Homo sapiens: one gene and its partners. The protein of the gene in region 2 interacts with the protein of the main gene of each other region in a pairwise test. Each region holds a gene or a part of one and is shown on either strand. Other genes may lie near its edges. The genes, in order: SMIM1, CISD2, NSG1 and SLC13A3.

The links.
Region 1: the proteins of CISD2 (region 2) and SMIM1 interact in binary tests that used the Homo sapiens proteins (3 or more experiments, as listed by UniProt).
Region 3: the proteins of CISD2 (region 2) and NSG1 interact in binary tests that used the Homo sapiens proteins (3 or more experiments, as listed by UniProt).
Region 4: the proteins of CISD2 (region 2) and SLC13A3 interact in binary tests that used the Homo sapiens proteins (3 or more experiments, as listed by UniProt).

The regions. Positions count from the first base shown.
Region 1 is NC_000001.11:3,768,066-3,775,771, forward strand, and holds the start of SMIM1 (small integral membrane protein 1), read left to right. Parts: upstream 1-4,683; 5' UTR 4,684-4,723; exon of another isoform or gene 4,724-4,997; 5' UTR 4,998-5,116; intron 5,117-7,233; 5' UTR 7,234-7,308; coding exon 7,309-7,418; intron 7,419-7,706. Other genes in the region: CCDC27 (coiled-coil domain-containing protein 27), read left to right, coding at 1,718-1,822, 3,336-3,458. UniProt on the Homo sapiens protein: Regulator of red blood cell formation.
Region 2 is NC_000004.12:102,871,985-102,879,007, reverse strand, and holds part of CISD2 (CDGSH iron-sulfur domain-containing protein 2), read right to left. Parts: intron 1-7,023. UniProt on the Homo sapiens protein: Regulator of autophagy that contributes to antagonize BECN1-mediated cellular autophagy at the endoplasmic reticulum.
Region 3 is NC_000004.12:4,390,080-4,397,102, forward strand, and holds part of NSG1 (neuronal vesicle trafficking-associated protein 1), read left to right. Parts: intron 1-1,395; coding exon 1,396-1,512; intron 1,513-7,023.
Region 4 is NC_000020.11:46,641,448-46,648,470, reverse strand, and holds part of SLC13A3 (Na(+)/dicarboxylate cotransporter 3), read left to right. Parts: intron 1-7,023. UniProt on the Homo sapiens protein: High-affinity sodium-dicarboxylate cotransporter that accepts a range of substrates with 4-6 carbon atoms, such as the citric acid cycle intermediates succinate and alpha-ketoglutarate (2-oxoglutarate), as well as other compounds including N-acetyl-L-aspartate.

The DNA of each region.
Region 1 (7,706 bases), on a different chromosome or scaffold from region 2:
AGGAAATCAATAAAGAGCTGACCTTTTTTTTTTTTTTTTTTTTTTCTGAGACAGGGTCTTTCTCTGTCATCCAGTCTGGAGTGCAGTGGGGTGATAACAGCTCACTGCAGCCTTGGCCTCCCAGGCTCAAGCTGTCGTCATCCCACCTCAGCCTCCTGAGTAGCTGGGACCACAGGCATGTGCCACCATACCTGGCCAATTTTAAAAGCTTTTTGTAGAGACGGTCTCACTATGCTGTCCAGGCTGGTCTTGAACTCCTGGGCTCCAGCAATCTGCCTGCCTTGGCCTCCCGAAGTGTTGGGAATACAGGTGTGAGCTACCGTGCCTGGCCCTGACCTTGATTTAGAATCCAAAATTAAGCAAAGGTCAAGGTCATGTATGGAGGCTTTTGAAGTCAGGTTCCCACCAGAAATGCCAACTGCAACTCAACTGCGTCCTCTTTCCTGCTTGAGTCCACCTCCTTCCGGCTGGGTCAGACTGAGGCACCCACCCCTGGTATCCCTTGATAAAACAGTTTGGGATCCAGCCGTAGTCCTGGTGAAAGCGTTAGACCAGAGGCGGTCTAGGTGTGTCCATTTGTGCGCCAGCCTGCACTGACCTGGTGGAGCCTGGAAAGCTGAGCTGAGAAATATTGTGAAGCTAAGTCCGGGTGAGCAGGAACTAGCGCCAAGCCTGATGGTGAGGCCCCACGGGTGTGGGGAAGTGAGGCTGGACACCCCGGGTAGCTGCCAACCTCTACCCTGGGGAGGGACCCCCAGTACAGAGGCCCAGCCCCTTGTGACCTCACGACCTCCAGCACCTGGCACGGTGTTTGTACAAAGTTGGGCGCTCAATAAATACTGGAAAGAAGGAAAGGATTCCACTCCTCACACAGGCCAGGGGCCCATGACATTCCTGCTGTCACTTAAACCTGTCCGAGCGGCAGTGTGGACATGCTTCCACTCGGAGGCAAGGCTGAGCCTCTCGGGCCCAGCTCCTGTGGGGCACCTCTGCGTCGTCAGGGTTTCTGGACGAGGAACTCGTGCTGAGCGTGCCGCATAACTCAAGGGGTTCCTGTCTGAGGCTCCTGGGGTGCAGATTGGAGGGGTTTCCTCTGCAGCTTCCTGGGAGGCACGATTAGCTACCTCTGGGGAGGCGGCTGCGGGTGTACAGGCAGACAAGGATCTTCATGGCAGCAGAAGACGAGAACGCCTTCTGGGTCTGTGCGCGGGGGCCAGGTTCAACGCTGCTGTCCATGGCACAGACACCTCCTAGTCAGCATGGAAAGGAGGAAGCACCAGCAGCGCACTGTTAAATGCCTAAAGTGAGAGTGTCCCCAAGGGCCAGGAAGTCCGCTCACTGCAGCTCCCCTGGGCAGTGGAGGATGGTCCAGGGGTTACGTGCGGCTTCTGTACTATTTTGGTTTGTTGGTTTAAAAATATATATATATGTGTGTGTAGGTTTTACTTTCCAATTAGAAAAGCCCACCTGGTGTAGGAGAGTCTTTGGGCTTTGGGGCTGGGCCGCACAGGGTCAGGGGTTGGATCCGGCACCTCCTAGCTCTCAGACAATCCACATTGACTTCTCTGACACCTGTTTCCAGTTTCTAAAGCCATGAAAAGTGAGGGTGAGCTGTTCCTTCCTGGTACATAAAAAATAAGGTGGTGGGGGGTGCAGCCCACTGGCCAGGTGCCTTCTTGGGTAAAGGCGAATGATAGTGTTGTCCCTTTGCTCACAGCTCGAGAGGTTAAGGAATAAGATCATCCAGGCCACCTTTAGCATCTCCGGGACCAAGTCCTTGGCCAACGAGATCTCTGACAATGACATCCTGGAAGCCCTGCAGGTATACCCCTAAGCTCAGCTGCCTCTATCCGGGCCCCAGACCCCCAGGCCAGAGCTGTGGTAGGGGGTTGTGGGGGGCCTAGATTCCAGGGACTCTGTTCTCATCCTACCTGTGTCACCTATTCACTTGGACCCCAGGACCCTCCTTTCTCTCAGCTCAGGCAGAGGGGATCAAATCATCCTAAGGCAGGTGGGGGCATGGCACGGGAGTCTTAGCTACTCTCAGCAAAACGGGGGACGGGCATCAGAGACCAGCAGTAACTGCCACAACCCATCCTGAGCGCTGTGGAGAGGGGACAAGCCGCTCAGGGCACGAAGATTCTCCCACAGCAGGAGCCCAGCCCCGGCTTTGTCCAGCTTGGTCCCCTCCGCTGGTATCACCACCCACTGATCCAGGGCCCTGGTGCAGACCCCTCCCACCCCGGCCACAGCCTCCTGGGCTCCTTCCTGACCAGGGGTCCCCAAGCAAGGGCCTCGGAGAAGTAGAGGGGTGTAGGAGAATTCAGGCCTTGGGGTCACTGGGCATGAGGGGGTCACCACCCACCAGCTGGGGGCCACACACTCACTTTTCTGAGCCATAGATGCCTCCCTCTGTGATGGACAGCGCATGCTCACCTGCAAGGTGTCGTAAGACTCAGAGCTCTGGGAGCCGGGCACCGGCTATGGCTCTGTGTGGGGCTGTGTACTACGAAGGGGTCACCTCTCACCAGGAGCTGCTTTTGTTCCCAAGACCCACACTTCACCCTCTGGGGCTGCCCTTGAACCCCAGTGTGTGCCCCTGACCTTCCAGCACCCACGTTCCTGGGGCCTGGTTCCCTTCCTCTGCAGAGTGGGGGGCCCTGGACAGTGCCTCTCCTGCAGAGCTGTAATGTGGAGAGAGGTCTCTGCGGCCTTGGTACTGTTGTCTGGGGGAGGGGAGGAGGAAGGGGAGAGAAAGAGGAAGAGAAGAGGGAAGACAGAGGATGGAGGGAGTTATTCCCACCGCACAGTAGCCAGGGAAGAGCACCTTTGCTTGCTTGCCATAGCCTGACATGAACCAGCAACGGCCCAGAGAGGAGAATGGAAGAGAGGTGGGGACAACATTCCCTCTGTACAGGACAGAAGGGACTTGAGGGACAGATGTGACGACCTCAAAGATCTCTAGGAGTCTGGGGCTCCTCACAACTCTAAGAGGGCTGAAGAGGGGGCTTAGTGCAGGCTTCTGCGGGCTGGTGGTGTGCACCTGCCCCCGGCTCCGCATTCTGTGACTTCACTTCCGTGGCTGAAAATCAGCCACTGTGGGAATATTCCCACCACAGAAACTGGCAACGCCACAAAGCCGAGGGTTGTTTGTTTTTTCTCCCCCTGGAGAGCCGGTTGTAAGTATTCACCAGCACACCCCTGCTGCAGCAAGCCTCTCTGGAGGAGGAGGAGAGGGTGGCGTCCCGGGCAGCTGGCACGGACTGTGCAGACCGGCCTCAAGGCCAAGGTGAGGAACTGGGAAGGCCACCTCGACGGCTGTGTTTCTTGTGTAGAGAATTATCTCAGAGAGAAGCGACTACTATAATCAGCTGAAGCAGAAAGGCGTCAAAGTGCCCCCCCTGCAACAGTCAGAGGCCTTCCTGACCAGCAAATCCAAGAAGGGGACCTCCAAGTAGGCCCAGCCAGGCCCCCAAATACGGTCAGCCCAGCAGAGGCCGGGGCCCAGCTCCAGAACCACCCGCCCCCACCATGCGTCCTGCTCTCAGACTCAGAATTAAACCCCGGTGTTGGCACTGTCCCACCTTTTTCTTCTCTGGGATCCACGCGGGGGCCTACTCTCCTCTGCGACCTTGAGCTACAAGGACACTCCCCATTCCAAAGCTCACTCACAGGGAGTCAGCACACCAGCCTGTGCCCCTAGCTCCTAACAGGTCCCCTTGCGGCACCAGGCTGCCAGAGGCCTGAGCCGGGGTGTCCGCCCAGCACTCAGCACAGACCTCACGCCTGAGCAGAAGGGGTCTGTGACCTTCTGCCCTGGGGGCTCTCCTGGCTGGGGCACTCTCTTGCTGGAGGACCCCTCTGGAAGATGGTGAGGGTGGGGGGCTCTGTTCCCATCCCCCCGCTCCTGGAAGGAAAGCTTTACGCACGGGAACGGTGTCTGTGGTCCCCGACGCTTCCCCGGCGCCTCTGAGGCTCTGGGCGCCTGAACACCTTCGGAAGGGACTCTCCCCATTACCCTTCTCTGCTCCCCACCCACACCTGCTTCCCTTCCCGCCGCGAGCACCGAGCGTGGGCCACGTGCGGGCGCCACGCCCCTCAAGCCCCGGAGGAGGACGGTCCCCGCGGCCGGGTCCCCGAACCCAGCATTCAGGCCCAGACGCGCCCAGAGCCTCCCGCAGTCTCGTCGGCGCTGCAGCCGGGTCCCCGCGGGGCTGGGAGGCTCGTGGCGTCGGAGGGGCTCCAGCAGGGGTGAAGGAGGTCGGGGACCCTGGAGGCCCCAAGGGCGAGCCGTCTGGGGGCAGAAAGTGCAGCCCTCTGCAGACCCTGCCCGGCCCCCCTGCACCTCCTGGCCCCGGGGCTGGGCGGCCTAGAGCCCCGGCCCCTTCCGGACGAGGCGTCTCCCGGCCCCACTCGCCCCGCCCCCAGCCCCTTCTGGACCAGGCGCCTCCCCGCTGCGGCCCTAGCCCTTCCCCGCATGGCCCCGCCCCCCTCTCGCCCCGCCCCCTCTCGCCCCGCCCCCGGCCCCTTCTGGACCAGGCGCCTCCCCGCTACTGGCCCCAGACCTTCCCCGCATGGCCCCGCCCACCACTCTAGCCCCGCCACCTTCCGGACCAGACACCTCCCCGCTGCTGGCTCCAGCCCTTCCCCGCGTGGCCCCGCCCCCGCCCTCGCCCCCTGCCCAGGCCCGGCCCCTGCGGAGCCCAGAGACGCGGGGACACAGGTGAGGCGCGCGGGGTCCGGGCTGCGGCTTCCCGGTGCGGCCGCAGTGGGCAGGTGCGACTGTGCGCGGCCTCGCTGGCTGAGAACTGGCGGGGGTGGGGGCGTGCCCTGGACTGACCCCCACCGGCCTAACCCGCGGTGCGGGGCCAGGGCCGGAACTGCCCGCCCGGCTCCTTGCCCGGCTCCTTGTGGCTGCTGGGGACCCCCGACACCAGCCACTTTCCCTTCCCGGCCCTTAGCAAGATCGGCTTCTCCGGTCACCTTTATTTTTTTAGGCTCGAGGCGTCTGCCGCACCTCAGCCCACGACCTGCCCCGCTGGGAGGTGCGGGCCGCTGGCCAGGCCCTGACCGCAACCTGGCCCAGAGGCCCCAGCCCTCAGGCAAGGTTCTCCGGGTAAGTGTGGGGCCCTGAGGCGCTGTGGGGTGAAGAGGTCTATGGAGGGGCGCCTGTGTACCTAGGGCCTTCCTGCACTCACAAGCCCCCAGGAGGTGCCAGGATCCGGGAGCCTCCCAGGGCCTGGAGGGGAGTCCCTGATGGGTTCCTGCCGCCACACCTGTGACCATCACATGAGTGTGGAGAGACGTTTACTGAGCAAGTGAGGGAGGCCAGCCTCAAGGGCCGGCTCTGGTGGCTGTGCACCGGGGTGACTTGGGAACAACGTGTTCTACGTCAGCAAGACAGGAACCCATGATCCCAGAGTTGAACACACTGGGCTTGACCCCTCCCACCGGGAGGCCCATGGTGGGCTGCTGCTGTGGACTTGGAGCCTCAGCACTCCCGAGACTAATGCTGCGTGGATGTCGGGTTGCAAGGCGGCTGCTGCAGCTCCAGCAGCTCCAGCCATCACGTCGAGTCTGGAAGAAGGAGGTGGCTGCTGCTGCTTTCACAGAAGCAAACTCTCCCATCCCCTGCTGCACCCTGGCTCCTGGACCCCAGCTGGGTGACTTGGGAAAGCAGGGGTGGTGGTATTAAGCTTGTCTTACCCGGGTCATGGCTGTTACCTGGGGCTGGCACATTGCTGCTGGGACCAGAATGGGATTCTGCACACCAGGCAAGAGGGCGTGAACCTCGGGTAGGCAGCTGACCGCTCCACATGCTCCGGGAAAACAGCACCCATACTCCAGTAGAGGCTGGGCCTCTCCGGGCCTGAGTGCCAGGCTGCACTGAGCCAGGGCTCCCACCGAAGGCACACTTTATGGCTTTGAGACAGCTCCTTCTGCCTCTCTGGGCTTTGGGGGAAGGCAGACATGGAAGTGCCGGGAGTCTCAGAACTGCCTGGGGCCTGAGTTTCTGAGCTGGCTTCTTGCAGGGGAGTGGCTGCTGTGCCTTTAGGCCTCTGTGCCGATGACCTGGGAGGAAGGTCAGCCTTCCCCGCTGGAGGGGGCCCAGCAAAGCCTCAGCTCCTAGAAGTGAGGGGCCTGCCATTGCCTGCCCGAGGACCCCACTCCTGGGGGCCAGATGCTGAGAGGGGACACTGGGGGCCCAGCAGACCAGAGAGCTGACCCCAGTCCCACAGCCTGGGTGGGTTGTCAACTTCTCGTGCCCCCTCCAACTCCTCCACCCCCACACCCCCTTAGGTAAATAGGAGGTCGAAACAGAGGCCAGAGGGTAAAGGAGGTGCTTAGAGTCCGGGCTGGCTCAGGCCGGCCGGGCAGCTGTGCTAGTGCTTGGAGTTCCTGCTCAGTCCCCGTGGTCTCCTCGCCCCTCTGGGCACTTGGGCTGCCAGGCACCGAGCTGAGTGCCGAGATGCAAAGATGAGTCCCAGGTCTGCAGGAGTTGGAGCCCAGCAGGGAGCTGGCCTTGGGGCCGGGCCCCTCCTGCTCTGGGCAGCCACCCAGCCCTACGACCCTCCTGTCTCTGTAGGGCCTCCCCAAGGCCTTGAATCCACCCCGGCCCCGTGCTCAGTGCATCATGCCCCCCAAGCCCCAGCCCTCCTAGAGGTGTGGGTGGGGGAGGGGCTGCAACCCACACAGGCTGAGGACACAGCTGCTGCCACTGCCTGGGGCCAGCCACGCATCCTCCCCAGACAGGGACCGGTCTAGCTGTACCAGCCGCTGCCCCGGACCTGCTGCCCTGCCCCACCCCCCCCTCCCCTGGCCAGCCTCCCCAGAGGCCAGAAGGCGCCTTATCGGGCAGGGTTAAGGAGGGGGACAGTTATCAGGGGCTGCAGCCTAGATTGGGCCACAATGTCCTCGTCTCTTGAGGGTGGCAGGCTGTGCAGGCTCCCTGATAAAAGCACCGGGGAAGGGAGGCTCCTGGAGTGTGCTGGAAGGAAACACTGGCCTCCCACATGCCTGAGGTCAGGGCTTGGCCTGAGATGGAATTCTCGCTTGGTCCCATCCTCCCGGCCTGACCCTGGGCAAATGACTCTACCACTTTGTGTCTAGGTCACCTGTTAAGTCAGGCGACAGACCCGGTGAGGGAGTCAGCCCCCGACCCTTAGTGCCCCTCTCCTAACAGCAGCCTCAGAGGGGGTCTTGACTGCCGCCCTCCATCCGCTTGTTTTACAGTGAAGCCACAGCCTGGCCACCTGTCTTGATCTCCCCACCGAGAAGGCCCCGCCCCTCCCGCTGCAGCCCCACAGCATGCAGCCCCAGGAGAGCCACGTCCACTATAGTAGGTGGGAGGACGGCAGCAGGGACGGAGTCAGCCTAGGGGCTGTGTCCAGCACAGAAGAGGCCTCACGCTGCCGCAGGTGAGGGGCCTGAGGGCAGCCTGCCAGCCATAGCAGGCTGGTGTCTCCCTCCAGAGACGCCTGCCCTAACCCCTGCTACCGGCCCCATCACCCTCCACCCCATCCTGGCTGGGAGCCCACGGTCCAGCAGCTCAGCAAACCGCAGCCTTTGGCCTTCCCTCTGGTTGGCTGTGGGCGGGGAGAGCTTCCTCTTGACTCCAGCAGAGCGCCCAGGCCCCTCCCCCTGACCCAGACCAACGGCCACAGTCCACTTAGGGGGCCCCTCATGCGGCCCTGGCCTGGGGCTCA
Region 2 (7,023 bases):
CCACCATAATTGTAAGTTTCCTGAGGCCTCCCTAGTCATGCGTAACTGTGAGTCAATTAAACTTATTTCTTTTATAAATTACCCAGTTTGGGGTAGTATTTTTATTTTATGTTTTTATTTCTTTTATAGCAGTGTGAAAGCTAATACAGTAAATTGCTACAACAGAGAGTTGGGTACTGCTATAAAGATACCTGAAAATGTGGAAGCAATTTTGGAACTGGGTAACTGGCAGAGGTTGGAACACTTTGGAGGGCTCAGAAGACAGTAAGATGTGGGAAAGTCTGGAACTTCCTAGAGACTTATTGAATGGTTTTGACCAAAATGCTGACAGTGATATGGACAATAACATCCAGGCTGACGTGGTCTCAGCTGGAGATGAGGAACTTACTGGGAAATGGAGCAAAGGTCACTCTTGCTATGCTTTAGCAAACAGACTGGTGGCATTTTGCCCCTGCCCAAGAGACTGATGAAACTTGAGAGAGAGATGACCTGAAATCGGAACTTAGGTTTAAAAGGGAAGCAGAGCATAAAAGTTTGGAAAATTTGCAGTCTGATGATGCAACAGAAAAGAAAAACCCAGCTGGGTGCTGGTGGCCCATGCCTGTAATCCTAGCACTTTGGGAGGCTGAGGCGGGCAGATCATGAGGTCAAGACATCGAGACCGTCCTGGCCAACATGGTGAAACCCCGTCTCTACTAAAAATACAAAATTAGCTGGGCATGGTGGTGCACACCTGTAGTTCTACTCGGGAGGCTGAGGCAGGAGAATCACTTGAACCCAGGAGGCGGAGGTTGCAGCAAGCTGAGATTGTGTCACTGCACTCCAGCTTGGGTGACAGTGTGAGACTCTGTCCCCCTCCTTCCCCCCGCCCCCCCAAAAAAAAGAAAAACCCATTTTCTGGGGAGAAATTCAAGCTGGCTGCAGAAATTTGCATAAGTAACAAGGAGCCAAATATTAATTGCCAAGACAATGGGGAAAATGTCTCCAGGACATGTCAGAGGTCTTCACAGCAGGCCCTTCCATCACAGGCCCAGAGGCCTAGAAGGAAAAAATGGTTTTGTGGGCCAGGCCCAGGGCTTTGCTGCTTTGTGCAGTATTGGGACTTGATGCCCTGTGTCCCAGCCATGGCTAAAAGGGGCCAACATACAGCTTGAGCCACTGCTTCAGAGGGAGCAAGCCACAAGCCTTGGTGGCTTCCATGTGGTGTTGGGCCTGTGGGTGCATAGAAGTCTAGAATTGAGGTTTGGGAACTTCACCCTAGATTTCAAAGGATGTATGGAAACACCTGGATGTCCAGGCAGAAGTCTACTGCAGGGGTGGAGCCTTCATGGAGAACCTCTGCTAGGGCAGTGCAAAGGGGAAATGTGGGGTTGGAGCCCTCACACAGAGTCCCCACTGTGTCACTGCCTGGCAGAGCCATGAGAAGGCGGCTACCTGCTCCAGACCCCAGAATGGTATATCTAACAACAGCTTGCACCATGCATCTGGAAAAGCCGCAGGCACTCGATGCCAGCCCTTGAAGGAGCTGCCCAAGGCCATGGGAGCCTACCCCTGGCATCAGTGTTCTCCAGATGTGACATGGGGTCAAGGAGAACATTTTGGAGCTTTATGATTTAATGACTGCCCCACTGGATTTCAGACTTGCATGGGCCCTGTGGCCCTTCTGTTTTGGCCAATTTTGCCCATTTGGAATAGGTGTATTTACCCAGTGCCTGTACTGCCATTGTATCTTAAAAGGAACTAACTTATGTTTTATTTTACTGGCTCATAGGTGGAAGGGACTTGCCTTGTTTCAGATGAGACTCTGTACTGTGGACTTTTGAGTTAATGATGAAATGAATTAAGACTCTGGAGGACTGTTGGGAAGGCATGATTGATTTTGAAATGCAAAATGAATGTGAAATTTGGGAGGAGCCAGGGGTGGAATAATATGGCTTGGCTCTGTGTCCCCACCCAAATCTCACCTCTTATAATCCCCATAATTTCCACATGTTGAGGGAGGAAACTGGTGGGAGGTGATTGGATCATGGGAGTGGTTTTCCCCATGCTGTTCGCATGAGATCTGGTTTTATAAGGGGCTCTTGCCCTTTCACTCCTCACTCTTCTCTCTCCAGCCTCCTTGTGAAGAAGGTGTCTGCGCTCCCTTCTACCATGACCGTAAGTTTCCTAAGGCCTACCTAGCCATGCAGAACTGTGAGTCAACTAAACCTCTTTCCTTTATAAATTACCCATTCTTGGGTATTATCTTTTTTTTTTTTCCAGATGGAGTCTTACTCTGTCACCACGCTGGAGTGCAGTGGCATGATCTTGGCTCACTGCAATCTCCACCTCAGGGGTTCAAGTGATTCTCCTGCCTCAGCCTCCTGAGTAGCTGGGATTACAGGTGTGCATCACCAAACCCAGCTAATTTTTTTGTATTTTTAGTACAGATGGGGTTTCACCATGTTGACCAGGATGGTCTCGATCTCCTGACCTCATGATCTGCCCACCTTGGCCTCTCAAAGTACTGGGATTACAGGCATGAGCCACAGCACCTGGCCTCTTGAGTAGTTACCTTTATAGCAGTGTGAAAACAGACTAATACACCTACTATGTAGAGATACTGTGCTAAATGCAAATACAGTAGCTGTCTTATTTATATCTATGTAACCAGTGCTTAGTAATTTGCACATAACAGGACTTCAGTAAACAACTAATTCAGTTTATCTGTGGTATAAATCCAGATTTTCATATACTTGGAACCAGGTTTCTTTTGTCTGTAAAGCAGGAATAACAACTGTAAGCTCATTTGTTCAACAATATTTACTTAGTACCTACCACACTCCACAAACTGCACTATGTGGGGATACAGGCTAATAGATAAGGTCCCTTCTCTCATAGGGTATATATTTCAGAGGACAGAGACTATAAACAAGTGAACAAATAAACAAGATGATCACAGACTATAGTAACTGTTATAAAGGAAATAAAGGATGACATAAGAGAAAAACTAACCTGGGGCAAAGCAGTAGGGTGGCTGCAATTTTAGGTAAGGGGTCAGGGAAGGTTTCTGAAAAAAGAACCTTTAAGCAGAGACCTAACGAATGAGAAGCCAGGAGCTCAAGCACTTGAGCGCAGAATTTTCAAGGCACAAAGAAAAGTAAAGAGTCTTCTAACTTCATAGGATTGCTGGGAGAAACGAATGAAGTAGGAACCCACTCAGTAAAAACTACAGAACACAATTCAAACTATTAATGCATTCTGCCTTAAAACTATATAGTTAGGTAAATATTTGTCTCCTCCCCAACTAAACAAAAAATCCCTAACTCCCTACCCTTTAACAGAGACTTACATAAACCAAGACCTCAGTAAGTTTTAGCCTAATTGAGTTTGTACTCCAATAAACTGGCATTTGAGATAATTCCTACAAGGTCTGTACTTACTTGTCTTTGTTCATGGCTTATGAATAATGACAGTGTAAGTTAAAATACAGGAAGACTACTTAAAATATTTAAGAAAAAAACTTTCAGCACCTTCTAAAATTGTAATACCTCACTCACATGTATCAGGTGGTGGGACAGGTACTGAAGATACAAAAATTATAAAACACACTCCCTGTTAGAAAGGAGCTTGCCATTTAGTATGGAAGACAGACCTATAAAAGACGATCATAATACTGTGTACTATCAGCAATAATACAGAAGCAACGCAGAGGTACAAGTTATTCACTTTTTACTGGCATGAGCAAAAACTGTACAGGTTTTGATACTTAAATAGGTTTCTGAAAGATGAAGAGTACAGAAGTTCATGGGAATATGGGAGGAGGAGCTTCATTCCATGCAGAGGAAGCTGCATAGGCAAAGGTACGGAGATATGACATGCATTAAGTGTCTGGGAAACTAAGCACCATAGTATTGTTAGAATTTAATGAAAGGGAGCTGTAGAACTGAGCAGGTGCCGTATGATGACAAACTCTGATATTCAACAGGTAAGTAAGAATCTAACCTGTGCATAATAGGAAACCACTGAAATATTTGAATATTAGCCTAACTAGGAAATTGTTCACCTATGAAGTCACTCTGGTATCAGATGGAAGATGGATTAGAGGGCCACAGGAATAGCAGAGAGGGCTAGTGGAAGAAGACAAGGCAAGACAACCTGTTGAAAATCCATGGAAATGGTCTGGAAGAAAATAGTTTGAGATAAAACTAAGGTAGTGGCCATTAAAGCAGAGAAGAGAGAACAAATGTGAGCAGTAGTCTCTACTAGGATTCCCTAAACTGCAGAGAACAATGTGTTCGTGCTTGCATTTTCGTTTTCTTTTTTAGCTTAAAACAACAGAAACGTATTCACTCACAGTTCTAGTGGCGAGAAGTCCAAAATCAAGGTGTCAGCATGGTTGATTCTTTCTGGAGGATCTGAGGGAGAAGCTGTGGTGTCCCTTAGCTTGTAGGTCTATCACCCCAATCTCTGCCTCCATCTTCACATGGTGTTCTCCCTTTGTGTGTGCCCAAATTTCCTTTTTAAAATATTTTAATATAATTTCGACTTTTATTTTAGGTTGAGGAGGTAAATGTGCAGGTTTGTCATATGGGTATATTGTGTGATGCTGAGGTTTGGGATATGGCTGATCCTCCCACCTAGGTAGTGAGGATAGTACCCAATAGTCTTCAACCCTTGACCTCCTGCCTCCCTCCCCTTTAGCAGTTCCCAGTGTCTACTGTTGCCATCTTCATGTCCATGAATACACAATGTTTAGCTCCCAGTTGTAAGAATATGTGTTATTTGGTTTTCTGTTTCTGTGTTAATCTCCTTAGGATAATGGTCTCCAGCTGCATCCATATTGCTGCAAAGGATAAGATTTTGTTCATTTTTCTGTTTTGCCAATTTTTTTTTTTTTTTGAAGACAGAGTCTTACTCTGTTGCCCAGGCTGGAGTGCAGTGGCACGATCTCAGCTTACTGTGACCTCTGCCTCCTGGGTTCAAGCGATTCTCCTGCCTTGGCCTCCTGAGTAGCTGAGAATACAAGTGTGCACTACCACACCCGGCTAATTTTTGCATTTTTAGTAGAGACGGGGTTTCACCATGTTGGCCAGGCTAGTTTCGTACTCCCAACCTCAAGTGATCTGCCTGCCTCAGCCTTCCAAAGCGGTGGGATTAAAGGCATGAGCCACACCGTACCTGGCCTGTTTTGCCAATTTTTAAATGTGAGTTGTTCATCTTCTTATTGAGCTCAATACTGAGCAAGGACCTAATATACATATTGACTTTTACATCCCTTTTTTTTTTTTTTTTTTTTTGAGACGGTTTCGCTCTGCTGCCTAGGCTGGAATGTAGTGCCACGACTCAAGCAATTCTCTTGCCTCAGCCTTCCACGTATCCCACTATTAAGATAAATAACAGGACCAAAAAGGAAGAATGAAAGAACCAGCACCATCAGAGAAACAAAATCTAGGCCACTCACAGTGCCTCACACCTATAATTTCAGCACTTTGGGAGGCTGAGGTGAGTGGATAGCTTAAGCTCAGGAGCTCAAGACCAGCCTGGGCAACATGGCAAAACCCCGTCTCTAAAATAAGATACAAAAAAATGAGCCAGGTGTGGTAGCGTGCACCTGTAGTACCAGCTACTCAAGAGGTTGAGGTGGGAGGATGGCTTGAGCTTGTGAAGTCAAGGCTGCAATGAGTGGGTAGAGATCATGCCACCTGCACTCCAGCCTGGGCAACAGAGTGAAACCCTTTCTCACAAAAGAAAACCAAAATCTAGTCAGAAAAGAAAATTTCAAAGCAACTTGAATAGCTGATTTGGTCAGGCTTTGTGTCCCCACTGAAATCTCATCTTGAATTATAATCCCCATAATCTCGTGCCAAGGGAAAGACCAGGTGGAGGTAATTGGATTATGGGTGTGGTATCCCCCATGCTGTTCTGGTGATAGTGAGTGAGTTCTCATGATATCTGATGGTTTTATAAGGGGCTCTTCCTCCTTTGCTCGGCACTACTTCCTGCCATGATGTGAAGAAGGTGCCTTGTTTCCCCTTCGCCTTCCGCCATGATTGTACGTTTCCTAAGGCCTCCCCAGCCATGCTGAACTGTGAGTGGATTAAACCTCTTTCCTTTATAAATTACCCAGTCTTGCGTAGTTCTTTATAGCAGTATGAAAACGGAATAATACGGTAGCTACCAATTTTAGCATAAATTTTCTGAAAGTTTAGACATTGTCAAAATGAAGTATCTTCTTTGGGAAACAAAATTAGGTTTAACCTTTTATTATATATAGTGACACAGGCTAGCTATGACACCTATTCCTTATGACATATAAATACTATTATTAAAACATTTTTTAATAATAGCTAAAAATGACATAAAATGACATAAAAATGACATAGACAAACTCCGATCTTAATGAGGAATTACATTCCACAGAACTAGAACAGAATTTTTCCATTTCAAATTTTCAAACATCTACATATAATATAGCCATATCATCTTATGATACCATAAAAATAATACTGGCAGCTTGGTTGCTAGTTATTTTATAACATATTTTCTCATTTATCATATGTAGCTAAACACAGAAATTATTTCTATTTCTTAACTGTAGAAAAGATAAAATATTTTCAATGCATGAGTTTACTATTACCACTTAAAACCTAAGGTAGGGCTGGGCGCAGTGGCTCACACCTGTAATCCCAGCACTTTGGGCGGCCGAGGCAGACGGATTACCTGAGGTCAGGAGTTCAAGACCAGACTGGCCAACATGGTGAAACTCCGTCTCTACTAAAAATACAAAAAATTAGCCAGGCATGGTGGCACATGCCTGTAGTCCCGGCTACTTAGGAGGCTGAGGCATAAGCATCGCTTGAACCCAGGAGGCAGAGGTTGCAGTGAGCCGACACTGCACTCCAGTGTGGGCAAAAGAGACTCCCTCTCAAAAAACAAAACAAAACAAAAACCTAAGTTAAACATAAATTAGATAATCACAGTAATTTATCTTGAACGCCTCACTCTTGAAAATGTGACATAAACAAAGATAGTTAAGTTGTT
Region 3 (7,023 bases), about 98 Mb from region 2:
GGTTTCCTCATCCTCAGCAGTAGCCTTATTTCCCATTCATTGGCCAGTCTAGGCCTGCGTGCTCAAGGTCACATGGCTAGTTGGGTCCAGTCGGGGTTTGAGGATGGCAGGGTGACACCCAACCACTGCCTCAAGCAATGAGTGCCTCACAGGGGTGGGTGCCCAGGCCAACCCATGCCAGGCACCCCTCCCTCTCCACCGCAGGAGCACTGGGTGGAAAAGGAGTTGGGGTCAGAGGCCAAGAGTGTGGTTACAAGGTTTATGGCTCTTGGGATCATTTTTCAGTGACCCTGGAATGGGCTCCGCTGTTCTTTCTCCCCAAGGCTGGCTTTGGGGGTCGTAGCACCGGATGAGAGGCCCTCTGGCTGCCCGCCTGGGGCTGACCATCCCCAGTTGCTGGGGTCTCTTTGTTCTGTCCTGGTCCCCACCATCGTGGAGAGCAGGTGACGGACTGCCCAATGAAGGGGCCTCGTCCCTCGGGGGAGAAAGAGCTTGGAGGTGGCTGGCTGTCTCTAGTGCAACAGCCTCTCCTGGAACCTGGCTTGGGGAGCGGGGTTTGGGGATTAGAGACCTATAACACCTTGACCCTGCTCTTGAACACCTCCCAGTCCAGTGGGACAGAGAAGTAAACAGTCCCTGGCAACGGGTGTGGTGAGTGATGAAGGCAGCGCCGCTGAGGCCAGGGCTGTGAGTGTCCAGGGCTGGGAGGCTTCTTGGGTCCATCTGAAGCTGCTGGGGTGTAGGGCAGATGCAAGGGCTGGTTTCCAGGTTGGACAAACATCGTTCTGCTTCACAGTAGGGGGTGGAGGGGAATGAGAGCAGGGAGACCCTTTGGGGGCTGTGGCAGGGGCAGGGGGAGAGGAGGATGTGGGGGTGGAGACAAAGAGGTTGATCCTGGATCTGTTTCCAGACAAGCTGGTGGCCAGCTTCTCCAGCCAGTCCTGGAGGGCTGTGGACAGTACCCTCAGACCTCCTCTTCTTGTGCCCATGGTGGCACAGCAAGGCCAGTGAAAAGGCAGGTGCAGCCTCCCAGCTTCCTGGGCCAAGCCAGGCTTTGGCTCTGGTGGGTGGAAGGAGCACTGGGTTAGGAGTCAGCTGCCAGGCTGCATCCCCGCCCTGCCGCCTATAAACCGCATGACCTTGGCCAATGAGCTTAACTTCTGTGCCCCTCGGTTATAATATTTCCCTCCTGGGACTGCTATCAGGATTATGAATGGGTCATTTCTCTGAAAGTCCTGCCACAGAGGAGATTTCCAAAAAGTAGTGGCTGTTCTCGTTCTTGTGAATTTCTTCCTGGCAAATGGTGACTTTGAATATGGGAGTTCCCAGACCCACCCTCTTTGGGCAGATATGTCTGAATGCATCTGACTTTTGTTTCTCTGTTTCCTGGATAAGGTGGTCGTGAAAACTAAGACCGAGTATGAACCTGACCGCAAGAAAGGGAAAGCACGTCCTCCCCAAATTGCTGAGTTCACCGTCAGCATCACGGAGGGTGTCACCGAGAGGTTTAAGGTGAGTGGTCCTGTGCTGGGTGAGATGCTGCTTTTGCCCCCAGAAGGGGTCTGCTGAGCTGCATAGATGCCCTGCAGGGAGGGCCAGGGTTTGACGCCGTTTGTCTGGGCTCATCCCAGCTGTGCACACCCAGTAGCTTGTGACTGCCTGCCAAGATGTTGTCCTTGTGCTTTTTGTACATTTCTTTTTTCTTTTCCTCTTCCAAAATGATCACATATTACTTATTTTTATAACAGGGGAAACCCACCCACAAACTGTCTTTTAGGCAAAGATTATAAACATATGAAAAATCACTTACCAAACATTACAATATTTACTTAACAGTTCCAGGAAGGAAGCAGGCAATAACAAAAAGATAACGCACAGCACTGATCACATGCCAGAAAGGGGTCCCAGCCCTTTACCTAGTGAGCTCATCTGAGCAACCCTCCTGGCACACCAGTACTATCGGTATAACCCATTTTGCAGATGGAAAGGTTGAGGCACAGAGTGGTCACAGCTCTACACAGCAGAGCCAGGATCTGATCTGCAGGGGGTCTGGCTTTGGGCCTGTGTGTATCCTCCATCCTTCCCCCCATCCCAATGGGATGAAGGGGTGCTGCTGAGAGCGGGAGGGTTCCAGCCTGTCTCGGTGGGAGGAGCCTTCTTGCCAGCCTGGCTGCCTTCAGAGGCCACGTTGGTTGAAGAACAAGTTGGGATATTGATCAGGAAACTCATTCTTTGGGAAACATGAGAGAGAGAGAGTAAAGCGGTAGCCTCATCCAGATTCAAGGAGGTGAATTGAGAGACATCAGTGGGCCCCAGGCCTTGCAGAGTGGCCCTGTCTGGCTCTCTGGTCACCCTCCACTTGGCAGTGTGAGCAGTTTGCTTGTGCTGGGGGCACAGGGACTCCCACCCCCACCCGCTGCAGTTTCCAGAGCCCCTGTGGGTATGGCATCATATTGGATCTCTGTGACAACCTTGTGGATCACAGAAGGTGGGACTGGGAGCCATCCCTGGTTAACAGATGAAGCCAAAACCACAGAGTGACTGGGGAAGCCAGGGCGTAATCTGACTTTCAGTCCCTCCTTCTTCCCGTTGCCACACACTGCCTGTCAGGGCCTGCCTGGTCCAGCGGGTCCCATGAGTGTTGCTGTGGGGCAATTACTTGTGTCAGCTCAGCAAATCCTCCCAGCAGCCCTCTGCCTGCTCCCTACTAATAGTAGGTACTATTTGTATTACCAGTGTTACAGATGGGGAAGTCGAGGCACAGAGCAGTCTGTGTCTGTCCCTGCTGGTATGTAAGGATGTCGTGTGTGCCGAGAGGCTCTTTTGGTGGCTCCTGGCTCGGCCCATCGTACGTTTTTGAGGTTCTTGGCCAGGACCAAGACATACTGATCCGAGGTCAATACCTGTCTTCTGCGCTGGCCAGTGGGATTAGCGCGTGCCTTATCTGCTGCCACTCACCTGTCCTGCCCCATTTGCACCCTGGGTTTGGCTGCTGTCCCTGGTTGAGGCAGGAGTGGCCTTGATTTCAAGGTCATGGTGTCCTCTGTCCTGATGGCTAAATGCTGTGTGATGTCTGAGTGTGTCTGGGTTTCTCAGGCCCCACTTGCCCTTTGCTTTCCCAGCCCCGGCGTTTTAGGTCCCCACAGAGCAGGGCGCAGTGCGGCACTTGAACAGCTATTCCTTCATCTGTTGAGTGTCTATGATGTGCCAGCCTCTGTCCCCGACCTCTGGTGTTCTTCATTTGCACTTTTCCCACATGACCACCTGAAGCAGGTCCCCAGGTCTCTTGCCTAAGGAATGGGTGATGCATATTTGCCACCAGGGCCCTTGGCAGCCTTGGCTGGGACTCTGTGGTTACCTGGCCCCTGTTGCCCAGAACCTGAAGGCTCAGAAGACCATGGGTGATTATGCTCATCCCAATAGACTGGCTGCTGGCAGCAGAAGCCCTGCCTCATCTCCCTGCCTCTACCTCCTGTGGCTGTCTGAGAAGGCGATGTATGCAGTAGGTGCTCAGTACATGACTATACTGGACTAAGTCTGCTGGGTGTGTTCCTCTGCTTAGTTTTCTTTTCCTCCTTTATGATTCACAACTGCCCTGAAGGGGTGGCATCGGCCCCTTTACACGTAAGGCTGTTGAGTCCCAGGTGGTCCCAGGGTGGCTGGGGTGCTCCCTCTGTGACTCTCTAGCTTCAAAGCCAAGGCCTTCCCAACATACCTTGCACCACATCCCTCCCCACTCCCATGGGACGCCTGCTGCTTCCCAGACCCCATCCCTTCCATCTCCTCCCAGGGCAGGTGCAGATCACACCTCTGCCAGGAAGCCTCCTGGGTCACTCTCATTTGCAACAGACCTCACCGCCCTGTTTCCAGTGCCTTTTGTAGCCAGGCTGCAATGGCATCTAACAGTGACGGAGTGATCCATGAGCTAGACTCTGCTTCACACTCCTAATGCTCATATTGTCTCATTTAATCTTCATAAACACCTCAGGAGGTAGGCGCCCTTATAGCTCCATTTTACATAGAGGGGAAACTGAGGCAGAGAGCCTTGGCAGCCTGCTCTTGGCTGTGGCACCAGAGGTCCTTGGTTTCTTGGAGAAGTGGGTTTGTGTGGGAGCACTCACCCCAGGCGCCATCGCTGTTGAGCCATTCCACTTCTTCAAATCCTTTTCCTTTGTTGATTCAAAACCCTTGCTCTGCTGCCTTGAGCCACACAGAATGTGCGGCGCCCTCCTTCCCCATCCCCAAGGCCTTCAGAGACATGGCAGGCACAGGTACCCCGGAAGCCTCCCCAGTGTACAGCTTCTTTTTCTCTTGTGTCTTTCTGAGTCCTGGTTTCCACGCTCCCTTCCCCCAGGTGCTCTCTTTTGAGGGTCTGGGTTGGGCTGTCTTCTCTTTGGGTGTGAAACCTGTGACTGGGTGTCCTGGCAAGGTCCATTGGTGTGGCCCTTCCAAGCATAGGCCCCCTCGACCTGAACTGGTGACCCGAGGAGGGGAACAAGGCCATGGAGACCCCCTGAGCCAAGAATGTCAGCCAAGAATGAATGCTTAGGGACTCTTTGTGCAGACGGAACTTACTCATCAGCCGCTCTATGCCAGCCATGGTAAGAGCTCCTTGATATCATCTCTCTGGCGCTTCTTGCACACACAGTAACAGCTTGATAAGTAAATGGATGACTAATTGTGCTGCTGGCCTCCCATGAATGGGGTACTTGGCGAGATTTCCTGGGTCTGCCCGTGGGTCCTTGCTTGTTGAGTAAGTTCAGCTGGCAGCTCATTGGATTGAAGCCTCTCTCGGGGCCATGCTTACGCGTAAGCCTCTAACAGGTGATGCCTGTCAGCTCTCACCAAGTCAGACAGGTGACCTGCTCAAGACCACACAGTCAGTGAGTGGCAGAGGCAGAGTAGGAGCTGGGCAGCCGGCTCTAGAAGCCTGTTGCTGTGGCATACTTCAGCCCACTAGCTTGCCCAGGAAGCCTGCAGGCTGGACTTTCGCAGCTGAACAACTTGCATTCTAAGGGCATCTCTTCTCTGTGCCTGCTCCGAGCCCCTTCTCAACTGGGAAGGAGATTTACCTAGCTCCCTGCCCACTTGCTGTGGGGTGGATGTGAGAGGCAGCCTCCAAAGTGCTGCTTCCCCAGGTGTTTCTGGAGCCACCTGAGTCAGCATCACCTGAAGTTTGATTTTAACTTGGACCCTGAACCGCAGGGAGATGCGTTTTGACAAATGCTTTCCAGGTGATCCTAATGTGTCCTGAGTTTTCGAGCCTTTCCGATGGGGGTGCATTCCAGCACAGAAGCTGGGAAGGATGAGGAGGGCTGGTGCTTTTTGGGAATGCTAAGGGTGCCCACCTTTCTGGAATGTTCTCCCAGCTTTTTATTACCCAGTTAGATTTCTGGCATCCCTGAACGCGTGCACACAATGAGGCGTGTGTGAAGCTGCAGCTGGTTGAGGGCTGGGCGGGTCTCTCTTTCTGAAACGGGAGCATATGGGGAGCAGGCTATGCTGGAGACACGGGCATGATGGAGGGTCCGCAATAGAGATTCACCCTCCCTGGCTTGTGTACCCCCCTGCCAGGGCCCAGTCGAAGCTGTGGTTGGGACAGAGCATCTTCCTCGTCCCACTAGTGACTGGACAGCTTCTGTGCAGCTCCCTGGCCCAGCCATCATCTTAGCTCTTTCATCTCCATGCATGAATTGCAGGAATGGAATCTCGCCTTTCCGATCTTGAAGTGACAGGTAAATCGTTTGTCCCCTCCTCTCTCCAATTTGTGTAGCTCAGAAGCACCTCATCTTTATAGGCGTTTGGATGGCATCCTTGAAACGGAGTGTCTTTTTGCATGCAGCTTTCTGATTGTCACTTGGGGATTAATCTCTTGGCTGTGAGGTTACTAGGCTGGTTGCTAGGTAACTGCTGACTGGGAGAAGGTTCTGAGAGACTCCGCCACACGGGATGGCAGGAGGACTCCCCCAGCGGCGGCCAGCTGCTTGGGCTTCCAAAGAGGTTCTTGTCAAGGAAAGCAGTCGCTTAATTAACTGGAGGCATATTTACAGTGAGAATAAACACTGGCTGAGATGTTTCTCAACCAAACCTAAACATTTTTGAAATTGCACTTCCCCACTGATGCCTGCAGAGTGGCGGGTCGGGGCTGCTGGGGCCGCTGCTTGCAGTTCTCCTTCCGGTCTGGAGACTGTCATTAGGGGCCGTCATCAGACAGGTGACAGGAAGGCTCCCTCAGGGCCCGCTCCAGCCCTTCGTGCTTCGTGATTCCGGTGATGACCGGTTGCTGACGCTGGAGAGGTCTCCACACCCTGTTTGCCTGTGATGTGAGGTCAGGTTTGGGTGGTCCAGCCTTGACCCTCACCGGGTACCATGTCACCCTGGGGCCTTGAGAGATCTGAAGGTCGGCTTTGCACGGGAACACCTTTCACCGCCAGCACAGGGCTGGGGAGTGACTTGGCAGGAGAGCCCTCGTTAGTCTGCGTGGTCCCCCTGGTTGGCAGTCCAGACTCTGGTGGGGACGTCCCTCTGCATCCTGTCGCAGAGGACTCTGTGGGTGGTTTGTGTCTTTTCTTCACATCCCTAATGACCTTGAGCTTCCTGCGTGCCCATCTGTTTCCACATTCTCCAGTAAGCCCCTGGTGTGTTCCCTAATGACCTTGAGCTTCCTGCGTGCGCATCTGTTTCCACATTCTCCAGTAAGCCCCTGGTGTGTTTCAAGATGCATTTCTTAAATATTTATGAAGAGTGATGCCGTTTCCTTGGCATTCAGCAGTGGGGGTGGGGGTTCTTCCCGTGGGGGTGGTATTGGAGACCCTGAAGGTGTGTGTGGACGCCCCCTCACCTTTAGCTATGCGAGCATCTTGTAGGATCCTGGGGCTGTGGTTGCAGAGCCCACCTTCCCCAGGCTAGCTGTAGTGTGGGGGCTTCGGCTGAATCAGATACCACGTGGGTTCAGTCATCTGTGTGTGTGTGTGTGTGTGTATGTATTCACTTTTGTGTGGGTTACCTAAAATATTTAGTGCT
Region 4 (7,023 bases), on a different chromosome or scaffold from region 2:
GGCCTGGCTCTTTGGAGGACCTTCGCCTCCCTCAAAATCTCTGTTGGCATACCTGAAGCCTCCTCTCCCATATAACAATATTTATATGATTGTCATTATTAGATTCTCTGACATTAAGAACAGACGTGTTTCTCAATTTCATATACAATGCGAATAAGAAGTATCCTTAGAAAACATCATCATCTTTATTGATCTGGGACACACATTTAATCCATTTCCCATTTAGAAAAAAAAAAAGTGCAGCTCACTGCCAGTGCAGTATTCTCGGTGCAAAACGGGACATGGGTTAAAGCAAGCACAGTAGGTTTGTTATGCACATGGAGCTTCAAGACAATTCTGGTCATCTTCACCAGTCACTCCCTGTGAGAGCCTCCCCAAACAGAGGCTGGTGGACTAACTTCAAAACATGCTTGCTGGGCAATTCAAGACAGGCGTCCTCAGCGTCCACTCCAACATCAGATTGTCACTTCTCAGCCTCTTCCACATGGATATTCTGGCGCCATGAATGCAGGTTGTATTGTATACATGGATCACTAACAACTTGCGAAACTGCAGATATCACATCAGGAAAGAAGTTGGAGATGTTCAGTTATTTGTCATTTACCAGGCAGTGTGGAGTAGGAGACAACCCCTCTTTGGGGCCTGGGTTTCCAGCTTGATGACATCTGTCCACTGCTGCTTTGCTGTTCTAGGAGTCTGTGTGTTAAGAGGGTTGGTTTTCATGCACCTGTTCCTGGTGACTGGTGAGCTTGTCTTCGGGGAGGCTGGAGTCAATCTGCAGAGCAGAGCTGGAAGGAACAATTCTTACATTATGTCCTCTGGCTCAGAAATGCTGTCAGCAGGGATGAAAAGGAGTGGGATGAGCTCTGGAATGCATGGCTGCCGCTTCCAGCACCACTGGGGATCCTAGCTCTTGCTATGAAGAGTGCTGGGGGCTCAGGAAGTTGGGATGCTACCCCAGGGACTACATCAACGTTTTCCAAGAATGGCCATCCTGCGAGTTAGAGGTTTGGGGAGTGATCTTAGCTAGTGGGCACAGATGGGACTCTTATTAATAAAACAGGCTTACAAATAAGCTCCAGCCCCACTTGTTTGCAGAGAAGCCTTACCCCCTTTCCTGCCTTATGCCCCCTGAGAGCAAATTAAATGATACTGACCACCTGTCCAAGAGGAGTTCTTAACACTGGGGACTCACAGGTGACTCTAAAGATGCTCTGAGAAGGAAGAGTTTGGGGATGCTCTCGGCAAGGCTGCTACAGAGTGTTGTGCAAGCTGTGCACTGCACAAGGTGCTTGAGGAGGCAAGTAAGGCTGAACCAGCCTGCATTCCACATGCCAAGCTGTGCACCCTGGTGCACAGCTGGATCCACCTGAGGAAGGGCCTTTTATTCTAATTTGCACAAAGGTGTCACGGTGGCCAACAGCAGACTTACTCTGGGATAGAGATATTTGGGGGGGATGGTAGTACACCTGTAAGGTCAGAGGCCCCCTTTCTTGCATTTGCCTAATTTGTGGGCAGGTAGATGACCAGGAAGATGGTCCTTTCATTCCCAGTTTTGAGGCTTTGGAATCAGAACTGCATTCGCATTCCACATACTTGCTGGGCAAGTCATTTTCTATTTCTGGCCTTGGTTTCTTCATTTATAACACAGCCATAATATTATATTCTTTCCCAGTTATTTTCTGGCCACAGTGAGTTAATACATTGTGCCTGTACTATAAATTCTTAGTTTTTTATTTAATGCTGAAAATATGTTTTAGTTCTCCTATTTTGCAGATGATGAAACTGAGGCTCAGAGAAGTTAAATGTTGGAGAGAACATGGGCTTTAGAGTTGAGAAAACCTGGATTTGTGTCTGGCTCTGAAGAGGGGAGCCTGGGCTGGAAACCTTGAATTTCTGAGGCTGAGTCTCATTTGTGAAGTGAGGAGGACTCACACCCTCTCATTCTGTTACGAGAATTAGGGGAAGATACAGGAGGTGTCCAGAGTGGTGCTCAGCATATAGTGGGAGTTTATAATTAGAGCAATAGCCACAGATTTTCTCACATTTACAAAATGCTGTTTTACATGCATCTCAAATTTCAGCTCATTTACTCTTCACATCAGATGTAGGAAGTTCAAACAAAAATTATCCCCATTTTTAGAGATGAGGAAAGTGAGGCACAGAGAGGTTAAATTCCAAGGTCACACAGCTACTAAACACTACTTCGGTCACTCCTCCTCCTTCTCTCTTAGTCCTGGATTTTGGAAGTGAGAGCGGCCAGGAAGTGAGAGAGGCCCTTGAGTTTTCCCCAACAGAGGTTTTCCAGAAAAAAACTGCAAGTCCAGCTCTGCGGATTGAGCACCTTCTCTGGCCAGACACTGCCTGCTGATTTTACCTTCTATCATCTCATTTGAGCCTCAGGGAGCTCAGACAGGGAGTTTTCCCCCATGCACCCCAGAATGGAGTGAATCTGGTTTGGTTTCCATCATCCAAATACCACTCACATCATTTTTGCCAGAGTCCCTTACCACTCAATATTATTTACTTAATTACATTCCTGTTATTCTTTTTACATTAATGTCTTACTGCCCTCTCCTTTTAAAAAAACTTAAATGCAATGACTTTAAAAGGAGATTTTCTGTGGGTATCATGTATGGAAAACCAGGATCATCACTGATGATTAGGAGAAGAAAACTAGCAATTGATAGGTAAATATTTAACGCTGATTAATACTGGGTACATACTGCCTGGTTGAAGCTATGGGCCTGCGATCTGCCCTCTCTTTGTTGCAAGGGGAGGGATATCATCAAGTGAGGCATTAAAGACAAACTAGTACCAAACTGAGACTTTGTTTTGGAAATAATGAGAAGGAAAGAAGGATTAGAAGGGAGGTAACCTCATTGTTCCACCCAAAGTCTTCTGGAGTTGGCTTTTTATGCTTCAAGAAATACTGGACCCATAGCCTGGAAGCGTGTCTTGTCTGGGGATGCTGAGGTTGACTGATAGCCCCAGCTCCTCAATTTCCTCATCTGTACATGGATGGCCTTCTTGCCACCATGAAGCTTGGTGAGCTGTTAAGTAAAGGAAATCTCGGGCATGTGGCTGGCTGAATAGTGACCCACCAAAGGTGTCGGTGTCCTAATCCCCTGAACCAGTGAATGTTACTTTCTATGGAAAAAAGGGACTTTCCAGGTGTGATTAGGTAAAGGATCTTGAAACAGGGAGATTATTGTGCAGTATCCAGGTGGACCTGATGTAATCCACAGGCGGCTTTCTGAGAGGCAGGCAGGAGAAGTTGAAATCGGAAGGTAATAGGATGATGGAAGCAGAGGGAGAAAAAGCAATGTGATGTGGGGCTGTGAGCTGAGGAATGCAGGTGGCCTCCAGAAGCTGGAACAGGCAAGGCATGGATTCTCTCTCCTGGAGCTTCCAGGAGGAACCAGCCTGGCCAACACCTTGACTTTAGCCTAGTGAAAATGATTTCAGAATTCTGGCCTCCAAAACTCTAAAAGAATACATTTGTGTTTCTTAAGCCACTCCATTTGGGGTCATTTGTTACAGCAGCAAGAAAAGATGAATACATGGCAAAACCACCCCACCAGACTGGTTCTCCCAGGAGCGGCTGGGAAGTTTAGCCCCATGTCTCCCTCTGAATTTTGATGCATCAATTGTCCATAATTCCCAGATGGGTCCCATCATGTGGGCCCCATGTTCCTGGGATGCAAACCCTGGTGTTCAGGAGAGAGCCTGGCTTGGTCAAAAAGGTTCCAGGCTTTGGATTCATTTGGATATGAATTCATCTCTAGCCTCTGCCCTGATGAGCAGTGTGATGCAGGAAGAGTGTCTTCACCTCTCTGAACCCAGTTCCCCAGCTGAAAAATGGAAATGTCCACAGTCCTTTCTTCACAGGATTTTACAATGAATAAATAAGTTCATACATGCAAAATGTGTGTCTCAGAGGACATGTACATTTTATTTTATTTTTTTGGCAATTTAACCTTTACACATGCTTTTCTGGTTGGGATCTTTGAAATTGATTTGGAAAAAAAAATGGGAGATGCTGGTAGCATTTGGTGCAAAGGACTATGTTGAAATGGTCAGTCCCGTGCCTCAGTTTTCTCATCTGGAGATTGGGTCTAATCATCGTTCAACCTCATACTGCTGTGGGGAGGAAATGGGTTCATATGTTTGAGGCACTTACTGGAGTGCTGGCTTATAGTTAGCACTTAGTAACTGTCAGCTATTAATATTACAGTTGCCATCGTAAACTGGTGCTCATTCTAGTTTAACCCCCACAAAAAGGAAACTGAGGCCCAGAAAAGGAAGTGAATTTTCCAAAGGCTTCAGTGAGGGGCAGGGCGGAGATGAGCACTTCCATCCCCCTCTCCAGGGAGTACCCTGTCTTAGGCATTGGTCATCAATGTTTTTATTTTAATTAATTAATTATTTTTGAGACAGGGTCTTCCTCTGTTGCCCAGGCTGGTGTGCAGTGGCATGATCCCGGCTCACTACAACTTCTGCCTCCTGGGCTCAAGTGATCCTCTCACATCAGTCTCCCAAGTGGCTGGGACTACAAGCACACGTCACCACGCCTGGCTAATTTTTGTATTTTTTGTAGAGATGGAGTCATGCCACTCAACTGGTCTCAAACTCCTGGGCTCAAGCTATCCGCCCCTCTCAGCCTCCTAAAATTCTGGGATTACAGGCACGAGCAACTGTATCTGGCCTCATCAATGTTTTATGCTAAAGACATTTCATTTAATCTCTTGACAGCTAACTTCTAGATGACAGGTGAGGGGGGTCAGAGGTCAAGTTCACTTATTTCTATTCAGATCGTAGCTAGCTCTCAACAAAGGTTAAGGACAGCTCATGTTTACTGTATGTTTATTAGGAGTTCTGGTCCCCGTTTCCTTGCTGATCCATCTTCCAACCCCACTCCACCTCTCATGCCCTCTGCTCCCAGCGCTCTGGCTTTCTTACTGCTCCTTAAATATCCCAAGCTTGCTCTCATCCCAGGACCTTTGCACTTGCAGCCCCCTCGTTCTGAACCTCTGTTCTCCCAGATGTCCGCAAGTCTTGCTCCTTCCCTTCATTGATCTCCGTTCAGATCTTACCTCCGAAAAGGCCGTCCCTGCCCCTATCTTTAGACCCTATCTAAAATAGAAAATGAAAAATCCTTTACACTCCATTCTGCCTTATTTTTCTTCACGGTCTTTATCACTACCTGGCAACGTATTATGTTTTAATTATGTATCTGCTGGTGCATTATCTATATTAACCCCCTTCCCCCCTTCCCACCCATGGGGTATAAGCTCACAAGGGCAGGGATATTTTTTTTTTTGTCCTGCTTACCATTGTATCTTTGGTGCCAGCCCCGTGCCTGGCACATAGTAGGTGCTCATAAGTATGTCTCGAATAAGTGAAAGAAAGAATGCCAGTTGTGTGCTAAGTTCTTGGCATGCATTTTCTCATTAATCCTCACCATGACCCCAAGAAGGAGCTACTACGATTCTCTCCATTTGCCCAATGAAGAGCCCACGTGCAGACAGGAGGAGACCCCTGCCCACATTAGGCTGGCAGATGGCGGCAGATGGCGGCAGATGGTTCTCAGGCTGACTTCCAGACTCCTGCTGTCGCCTATCTCCCCTGGCCCTTTGCCTCCTGCAGAAAGTTGCTGACCCTGGACACTCCGGGAATAATCAGAGGCTAATTCGAGAGCCAGGTTGGCAATCCAGGGACAGGGACAGGCTGTGACTCACCGTAAAGCTCTGGGGTCAGGCTGACAAGCTGGGAAGGCTTCTTGTCTCTGGTTGGCTTTGCGCTTGGACTGGATGTGGTAAGATGAAGAGAGGAAGGAAGGGTGCTCCTGGGGAATGGGAAGCGCAAGAGGCCAGGAGCAGGAAGAGTCCTGAGCAGGGGGAGAGGGCAAGGAGTCATCTTCCCAACTCTAGATGCAGACTTCCAGTGCACAGCGACCCAGGAGGGCAGAAACTGGCAAAAGCAACCATAGACTGAGCACCTACTAAGCGCCAGGTGTTATGCTGGGTACTTCACATGCATTGCAGCCAATGCTTAGAACATCCAGACAAGGGAGGCCTATGAGGAGGCACCGAGGGTCAGCACAGTGCAGTGTTGTAGCCCAAGGTCCCCAGCTGGTGAGTAGAATTTAAAATGACACCCATGCTCACAGCTGTGGCCCCAGGGCCCTGTGTCATCCAGCTCCTGCCCACCTGTCCCCTTGTGTCTGTTTTAATGGTAATGGAATTTGTTTTATTTGGGTATGATAAACACACAGACACAGAAATCAGCATTATCAAAGAAGTTTTTATACTCAGATGGCCCTAGAAGCAGGAGGCATACCATGCCACACAGGGCCACACAGGGGAGCAGCAGGGTCTGTCGGGAGGCAGAGGGAATAAGAGGAAACGTGGGCATGAGCCTTTACTGTGGGCAATATGTTCGGGCAAGGCAGGGTGTGCAGGTTTAGGACTGGCTAGTTAGTTTGAATCATTTCAGTGGGTCTGGGGGCATAGGGGCTTCCCCTAGTTGTCTTGTACCTGGCTCTGGGGTGATTAGGGCAGGTGGATTCATGTGAGATCCCTCAAAAAGAGGTGGTAGGGAGTATGGGGTCTCGATTGGTTGTTTCACATATGAAGGAATGCTTGCAGGCTAGTAGTTTATTCTTTCTAGGAATTTGCTAGCCCTGGGAAGGGGCAGTCCCTCCAGGGTCTCAGAGCCTCAAATACAGAAATTAGAAAACCTGATTTTACAACTTCCCCTGCCCTTGTCTTTTCTCACTGTGCCCCAGCCTCATGTGCCTTCTTTTGGTTCTTCAAAGCTGCCAAGCTTGCTCCTGCCTCAGGCCCTTTGCACTTGCTTCCCTGGACCATTCTTGCCCCAGATCTTCCACAGCTGGGTGCTTCTGGTCATTTAGGCCTTGGCTCCAATGGTACCTCCTCCTAGAAGTCCTCCTGCTTCTCAAGCACACCTGCCCTCTTCATCCCACAAATCACTCTCTAAAACAGCCTTCTGTTTTATTCC